3 separate regions of the Homo sapiens genome follow, and all the other regions are linked to region 1. Evidence: fine-mapped expression QTL. A gene starts in region 1. Each other region holds a variant in brackets. All regions are shown on one strand. Distances are from middle to middle.

Region 1 (2,765 bases):
TTAACTTCACCCAAGGCTTCGTGCTGGAGGGGAATGGAGGAGCTCCTGATTTGCTATTACTACTCCAAACTGCAAAGGGCTCCTTCAAGTCACCTATCCACCTCCTAAGGCAAGCGTCCAATTTCAACAGCGTTCAGGAAAGTCTCCTCCCGCGGAGGTCTCACCGCTTCCCACTCCACCCCCACAAACTCTTTGGAAAAGTGCCTTGAAAAATTTAATCCTCAATCCAATCCTGGACCACCAGCGTCCTCTGTTGGTCACCGAAGGGAGGGGGTGCGCAGACAAAACTGAAGAAACTCGAGTGCCAGAGAAGGCCGACAGGAGTTACAGCGACCTCAGCGCGCAATTGCGCCCCCGAACTTTACTGAAAAGTGTTTAGATTGCAGAGATAAGCTAGAATCCCAACGCATCGAGAATACAGTAATACGAAGTCGCCTTCAAAAAATGACAATGAAAATTGCCTATTAAAGGACTATTTGGTTAATTACGTTTCAGCAGTGCCCAGTTTATTGTCTTTATTATTCTTTTGTCATGGGTGTAAACTCCATTTGAAAACATAATCAGGGAGAATACCCAAGACAAGAAGAACAGTTGTCATTTAAAATATTTGAAAAGCCCTGCCTTAAGGACGCATTCGCTTGCCGGTCCACTCTTAATTGGAGACTTGCGGTGTAGCAACACGTGAGAGTCTTCTTGCGTTGAGAAGTAAGCCTGGAAAGGGGCGAAGGCCCCGGGCGCATCTTCAGATGCGTATTTGTGGGCCCCTGGGGATATAAACAGCCCAGCGGGTGTAAATTAAACCCCGCAGTGCCTTGGCTCCCTGAGACCCAAATGTAAGTCAGAAATGTCCCAAGACTTCGCCTGCCAACGGAATTAAATTTTAGAAAGCTCCACGAGGTACACACGAATGCGGAGCGCTGTATGCCAGTTTCCCCGACACCGGCTCGCCGCAGGGAGACCTCACCCCGAGAGCGGAAGGGGTAAGGGCGGCGGGGTCAAGGAGATCGGGGGTGCTGAGTTGGCCAGGAGTGACTGGGGTGACCGGGGGTGCTGAGGTGGCCTGGAGTGCCGGGGTGGCCGGGCACACCTTGGTTCTTGTAGACGACAAGGTGACCCGGGCTCCGGGCGTGCGCACGAGGAGCAGGTGCCCGGGCGAGTCTCGAGCTGCACGCCCCCGAGCTCGGCCCCGGCTGCTCAGGGCGAAGCACGGGCCCCCGCAGCCGTGCCTGCGCCGACCCGCCCCCCTCCCAACCCCCACTCCTGGGCGCGCCGTTCCGGGGCGTGTCCTGGGCCACCCCGGCTTCTATATAGCGGCCGGCGCGCCCGGGCCGCCCAGATGCGAGCACTGCGGCTGGGCGCTGAGGATCAGCCGCTTCCTGCCTGGATTCCACAGCTTCGCGCCGTGTACTGTCGCCCCATCCCTGCGCGCCCAGCCTGCCAAGCAGCGTGCCCCGGTTGCAGGCGTCATGCAGCGGGCGCGACCCACGCTCTGGGCCGCTGCGCTGACTCTGCTGGTGCTGCTCCGCGGGCCGCCGGTGGCGCGGGCTGGCGCGAGCTCGGCGGGCTTGGGTCCCGTGGTGCGCTGCGAGCCGTGCGACGCGCGTGCACTGGCCCAGTGCGCGCCTCCGCCCGCCGTGTGCGCGGAGCTGGTGCGCGAGCCGGGCTGCGGCTGCTGCCTGACGTGCGCACTGAGCGAGGGCCAGCCGTGCGGCATCTACACCGAGCGCTGTGGCTCCGGCCTTCGCTGCCAGCCGTCGCCCGACGAGGCGCGACCGCTGCAGGCGCTGCTGGACGGCCGCGGGCTCTGCGTCAACGCTAGTGCCGTCAGCCGCCTGCGCGCCTACCTGCTGCCAGCGCCGCCAGCTCCAGGTGAGCCGCCCGCGCCAGGTGCGCTGCGTGCAGCACCCGGCGCACTGGCGCCGAAGGGCCTGGGGGTTGCTGGGTGCCGCTGCGGGAGACTCCGCTTTTCTTCTCACTGGAGATAATATGTGGGGAAACTGAAGGCGCTCCGGGAAAGGTGAAGGCGGTCGCCGGAGGGACCCTCCCCAGCCGGCCCTCTACTTGCTCGATTCTCTAAGTGCAGAGTACTTGTAAATTGCAAAGCGCTTTCAGTGAAAATGGGTTAAAGGTTTCCGGAGCTGAGGGGAGCGGTACCGATGTTTAGCTGTTGGAAAGATCCTGGACACAGGAGATTCTCCTCGCCCCGCACGGGGGTGCACACGGACTGCAATCCCAGGGATGCTTGGGGATGGGGGGGATATAGGCGGATTTGGACCAAGGAAGGTGGGCAGGCACGTTGTAGGAAATAGTACCTCTCTTTTAAAATACTGACTTTGCACAGCCTTTTGGTTTGCAAAGCAATGTCTAGTCCCGGTATGTCCAAAAACAAGTAAAGTGGATTCGGGTTTTGATATCTTCTGCGGTTGGAAAACCTGAAGCTGAAAAAGAAGTAACTTCTTAAGGTTACCCAGCGGCCACAACAGAGTGTAGGTTTGAACTCCGCGTGCCACTTTCAGTACCATACCATTCTTACAACTCGGGCCACCCCTGCACCTGCGCCGACCTCAAACAAACTTCCAGGTGCGTGGTGGGTGCGGGCAATGTGGACTAAGTCAATTTCAATGACACGGAAGGGAATTGGAATCAGTCCTAGGGCTGTCTCCCTTCTTAATCTGAAATGGGGGGGGGAATGAGATGTTGTTAAGGGGAGCCCCAGAAGAGGAAAAATGCAAACATTTGGCAGAGTTACCCTCTTGGCTTAGCCA
Region 2 (2,765 bases), 89 kb before region 1:
CAATCAGAACCCGGGACAGCAAGACTCAGGTGACTGTCCCTGGTTGTCAATACCCCACAAGCATTGTAACATACCATTCCCAGCAGAAGCTGACATTGTCCATACTCCACCATAAGGACAACTAGAAGCTCCACGTCTGGAAAGCTCTCAACTCCGCTCTGCATCTCCCCCTTGGCCGATGGTAATCTGTATACTTTCACTCAAATAAACCATAACCATGAGTATAACAGTTTTCAGTGAGTTCTGTAAGAACTCACCTAGCAAATTATCAAACCTGAGGGTGACCTTAAGAACCTATAAATTCTGCAGATGGTGCAGAAAGCTGCCTTGTGGACTGCCTCCAACTTTGCAAACACAGGAAAGGAATCAGCCTGCACATGAAGCCCCTGCAGTACTGGGCCAGCCTCCCTGCTCTGCGCTGCAGGGGTGGTGTCCACCTCCAGCTGGGAGGGCAGCAAGAGAAAGGTGTGGACAATGATGCTTCAGAACTGTAATCTCCTCTTCTGCATTCCACTGCAGAAGACAGATTTATATGACAATCCTGGGGTATAAAAAAAGAAAAAATAAACCTTAGAAAATTAAAAAGGATTTTTCCTAAATTAAGACTGACAACATCTCACACATAAAACATACATGTAGAGGTCAGGCACGGTGGCTCATGCCTGTAATCTTAGCACTTTGGGAGGCCAAGGGCAGGCAGATCACCTGAGGTTAGGAGTTCAAGATCAGCCAGGCCAACTAAAAATACAAAAATTAGCCTGTAGCATGGTGGCCCACACCTGTAATCCTAGCTACTTGGGAGGCAGAGGCAGGACAATCGCTTGAACCTGGGAGGCAGAGGTTGCAGTGAGCCAAGATCATGCCATTGAACTCCAGCCTAGGCAACAGAGGGAGACTCCATCTCAAAAAGAAAAAGAAAGAAAGAAGGAAGGAAGGAAGGGAGGAAGGGAGAAAGAAACAGAAAGAAAAGAAAGAAAGGAAAGAAAGAAAGAAAGAAAGAAAGAAAGAAAGAAAGAAAGAAAGAAAAGACAGACAGACAGAAAGAAAGACAGACAGACGTGGAAATACTTTTATCCTATACCTTAAGAAAACATTAATCAATTAAAATGTACATTTTGCTTAATCATCAGATTAAAATTAGAGTTTAAACCATAGAAAATTTTAAAGAAATAGTCATGTCAACAACTCCTCTCCAACCCAGAACTATAGACATACCCACTTCCCACTGTGAGTGAAGGTAAGGGGTGATATGAGATTGCAAAAAAAAAAAAAAAAAAAAAAAAAAAAACCAGACTGAAGAA[C/A]CCAGAAGAAAAAAATGGCTGAAATACAGGGAACATAACAAGAAAAGAAGAAACACTGCCTAGTCTAGGAATGGACGTCACCGCATACTTTTCAGCCAAGCCCAGACAGTCCCAGAATCGTTCTCAACACAGCACCCCAGTTGCTACAAATAGATAGATCACGAAATTCCTTCACCACTCCAAAATTAAATTAACCATGAACAGCACATGGACTGTGGACCCATGGCATAAAAGGCCAGAGTGAGCTCCATTAGTTCATGCCTGACACTGTGCTAGGTACATTTAAGTACATTGTTTAGCATCCTCAGACTGACGCTCCTTTTGTAATGAGGAAAGCAAGATATAGAGGGGGAATCTGACAAGTCAATGTCACACCACTCAAGCTTTACTGGTACGTAGCTACACTCATCATTTCTATATTGTTCACAGCTGCTTTTGCACTAAACAGCAGAGTTGAGTAGTTGTGACAGAGACAGGAAGGCCTGCAAAGCTTAAAATATATACCATCTGGTCCTTTTCAGAAAAAGTGTGCTGACTCCTGGTCTAGAAAATTTTTCACTATAGTTTTAAAGTTCCAGAATAAATAAGTACTGTTACATATACTTTCTATTTAGCACTATTTTAAATTAAGGTTGCCAATGATCCACTTCATACTTTGTGAGAATAAAAAACAAAATGTAATATGACTTTCTTTGCCAATCATTCGACCCATGACTTCATTTCCAGAAAAATAGAATTCTGCATCCCAAGAGCATTTGGCATATGACAGCTCCAGAAATCAAAAAGAAAAATATCAATACGTTTCAGGCAGTCTTCTTTTGCGGACTAGTTGGGAAGCATTTTATTATATTTATATTTATATTATATTTGTAAATAAAATAATAGTGACCATGAATTGAGTGCATACAATGTGCTCGAAACATACTAAATGCTTCACAGTATTTTTCTATCCTCAAAACAACACAATGACATAAGTGCTTTTCCTTTTTTACAGAAGAAGAAACTGAGGCCTAGAAATGTGAAAAAATTTGCCCGAAAACACTCATGAAAAGCAAGAACCCATAGTCACACTCAGGGCTGGGGGACTCCAAAGTTGGTGCTCTCTCCCAGCATGCAGAACAAGGATTCTAGGCTGGAAGCTGAGAAGCAAGAAAAGGGAGGAAGAGTGAGCCTCAGCTGGGCACTGACACATGACTGGCACTAGAGCTGGCACCTGACACATGACATCTTCACATCACACTCTTCCTTCACTTAGATGGAGAAATAAGGTCTGGAGAGGTTGATAAAGCTTCCCCGAACTGTTCCCATTCATGGTACCTCTTTCCTTGCCTCTGTGTTACTGATCTGAGCCATCCATGTTAACATCACACAAAATTCAATGACTCTACACCAGCGGTCCAGGATGATGACATGAGGTGTCACTGGGGGGGGTAGTTCTTGCTACTGAGATCCATCCTCTCCCAC
Region 3 (2,765 bases), 24 kb before region 1:
ACTGAAATGTTAAGACTGGAAGCCAAAAAATTCCAAAACTCAAAAGAATTTTTATTAGGAACAGTGAAAATGGGACCAGGTTTATTAAGAACTCTTGGAACTTTTCGAAACTTCACCACACTGAAGAAGCAGTATGGACCCAAAGGATACGAATGAAGATCTGAGACTCCAATGCACCCCCAAACTGGAGGGTAGAGGAGAAAATGAAAATTACATCTCAGATGGCTTTGACGGCCATTGCAGTGGAATCTGTGGGTAGTGATGAAAAGGCTCAGGTCTATGGGACTTTGTCTCCCAGGACAGTTTCCCAGGACTGCAAGAGTTCTTCATTTATGCAAACAGCAGGAGAAGGCAACAGGCAAGGTGGGGAGTTAGCTCCTCTCCAAAGAGAAAAAGGAATATGCTTCTCCACCCTCCACCAGGAATGGGACTCAGCCATGTCAAGACTGGTACTAAAAAAAAAAAATGAGATTTGCCAAACCCAGAGGAGAAAAGACACAGACAGAGAAGCAAATTTCCTTTCCAAAAATTAATCAAAGCTTTAGTTCCCTCCCTCCCCTCACTAAACTGGCATCAAGACTTGAACCTTAGGATCCACAATGGTATTCGAAGAGAATGATGAGGAAACCTATAAAGTCATTATTCACTGTTCATGTAAAAAACACCACACCTAACTAGAAGTCTACACATTTAAGAGCAAGCAAACAGAAAAATACATTGTTAGTGATAACACTTTGCAGCATATAAATGATGGGAAATGAATAAATGTTGAAAATGACGTGGTGCAAAAAACATAAAGCAATCATGAATTAACTTTGTACCAGCAAAACTGAAAATAACACCTATTTTATGAAATGAACCAAAGTGAAAAGGCAAAAGAAAAGAAACTGAGATTGCTTAAATAATTTGATATATTAATATATTACAAAAAAGAAATAGATAGATCACATCATCTGGCTCTTGCAATTCAATTTAAAGGATCAAAAATATGAGGCTTATTCCACAGAAAAAATAAAGTAATCTTAATTATTCTATATAACATTAGCCAGAAACTACTACAATCAATGCATGTTTTTCATTTTATACAGGACACTTGGCTGGTTGGTAAAAAATAAGGTAACATGAAGTTTTCAGATGAACAAAAACTGAAATAAGTTATTTATTAGAATAGAATACTAAATACAATAGAATAGAACACTAAAAAATGTAAAAAAGTATGTACTTCAGGCAGAAGGAGCATTATCACAGATGAAAAATTGAAGATGCAGAAAGGGATCAAAAGAATTGTGAGACTATATTGAAATGAACACTGTATTAAAACAAGAACACTAACATTTTTAGGATGTAGA[T/C]TATACAGGTGAAATTAAAATATATGACAACGAGAGCATAGAAATCAGGAAAGGGACAAATAGAACTGAAATGTCTGAGTGTGCTTTTGCTTCACAGGACTAGAGTACAATTATCAATTAATATTTGAATTTTATAAATTAAGAAGGCTTATTGTAATTTCTAGGAAATACTACAGGATGACTAAAAAAAAAAAAAAACACTTCAAAACTACCAGGAAAAAGCATTATAAAATCATAAAATTAATCAACTAGGAAAGCTCCTTCTAGCTAGGATTAGACCTCTACAGCTACAAAAATCACTGATTACAACTAAAATATCTAGTAAACAAAAGTCAACAATTGTGGGGAGAGTCAAAACACGGAAAAGTAGCCTAAAAGGAGGTGTTTTCTAGTTTTGTTTTTTCTCTTTTCTCTTACAACATGGATCCAAAGGCAGTCCTAATCATAGACTGTTCAACATTGGTGGTTAAGAATTCATGGATTCTGTGTGTTAGGCCTGAGAAACCAAGAAAAGGGCTCCTGAGGCTAAACGAGTGTACATGGGAGTCCCCTATTTTCCCCATTATTTTTTCTCCAAGATATCCCCTCAGGGTGTGCCTGGTCCTGGAATATAGCTTAGACAACTGAATGTTCTTTAACTTGCAACTGAGTAAAAAAGCTGTGGTGCATCCAAAGTTAATGTTATTGGCCGATACTCTTTGGCAATAAAAAGGAATGGATTATTATTACACACACACACACCATGAATGAATTTCAAACACATCGTTATAACTGACAGAAACCATGCTCAACTATGATTTGATTTATATGACATTCTGGAAAATTCAAAATTAGAGGAACACAAACACATTGGTTGTTGCCAGAGAGTGGAGATGAGATAACTGAGTGCAAATGGGCAGCGCAGGGGAGAGTTTTGCGATGACGCTGCCTTGTGGTTACATAAGTGCATGCATTCGCCAATCTCATGTAACTGTACACCAAAAAGAGTGAGTGTTACTGTGAGCAAAGAAAAAAATAATCAACCCAAAAAAGAAGGCAAGAAAGAGAAAAGGCATAAAACCAGACAAATAGAAAACACATAATTAGATGGTTGGTTTACCCCGTAATATATTAGTAAGTACAGTAATGGTAAGTAGACTGGATGTTTGAGTGAAATATCAATCACTAGATTTAAATATCAAAATCTAATGCTGTGGTGTGCGAAGGAGACACGCTTAAATTTGCTGGGTACATATTGAAAGCTGTAAGAGTAAATAACTGTGTAGATAGCATACATAACTAACCAAAAGAAAGTTGGGGTAGTTCTATTTAACATCAGAAGAGAATAGATGCAAAGAATTCTAAAGAAGGCCAAAGAATTACTCGAGATGAATACAGTTGTTTTATAATGATAAATGATTTGCTAAACAAGGAAGA

What was found.
Region 2: its variant is fine-mapped to the expression of IGFBP3 in whole blood (TOPMed, PIP above 0.99).
Region 3: its variant is fine-mapped to the expression of IGFBP3 in whole blood (INTERVAL, PIP 0.99).

The regions. Positions count from the first base shown.
Region 1 is chr7:45,919,842-45,922,606 of GRCh38, reverse strand. It overlaps IGFBP3 (insulin like growth factor binding protein 3), which reads left to right and starts at 1,335. Exons shown (of 5, transcript NM_000598.5): 1 at 1,335-1,869. The coding sequence starts at 1,467. RefSeq lists enhancers at 371-951, 952-1,532.
Region 2 is chr7:46,008,405-46,011,169 of GRCh38, reverse strand. The region is part of intron 1 of LOC105375264 (a long non-coding RNA gene); the gene reads left to right. Among named protein-coding and RNA genes, the nearest start is that of IGFBP3, 89 kb to the right of the region's middle. The variant C/A (reference allele first, on the strand shown) is at 1,302.
Region 3 is chr7:45,943,691-45,946,455 of GRCh38, reverse strand. The region is part of intron 1 of LOC102723446 (a long non-coding RNA gene); the gene reads right to left. Among named protein-coding and RNA genes, the nearest start is that of IGFBP3, 24 kb to the right of the region's middle. The variant T/C (reference allele first, on the strand shown) is at 1,350.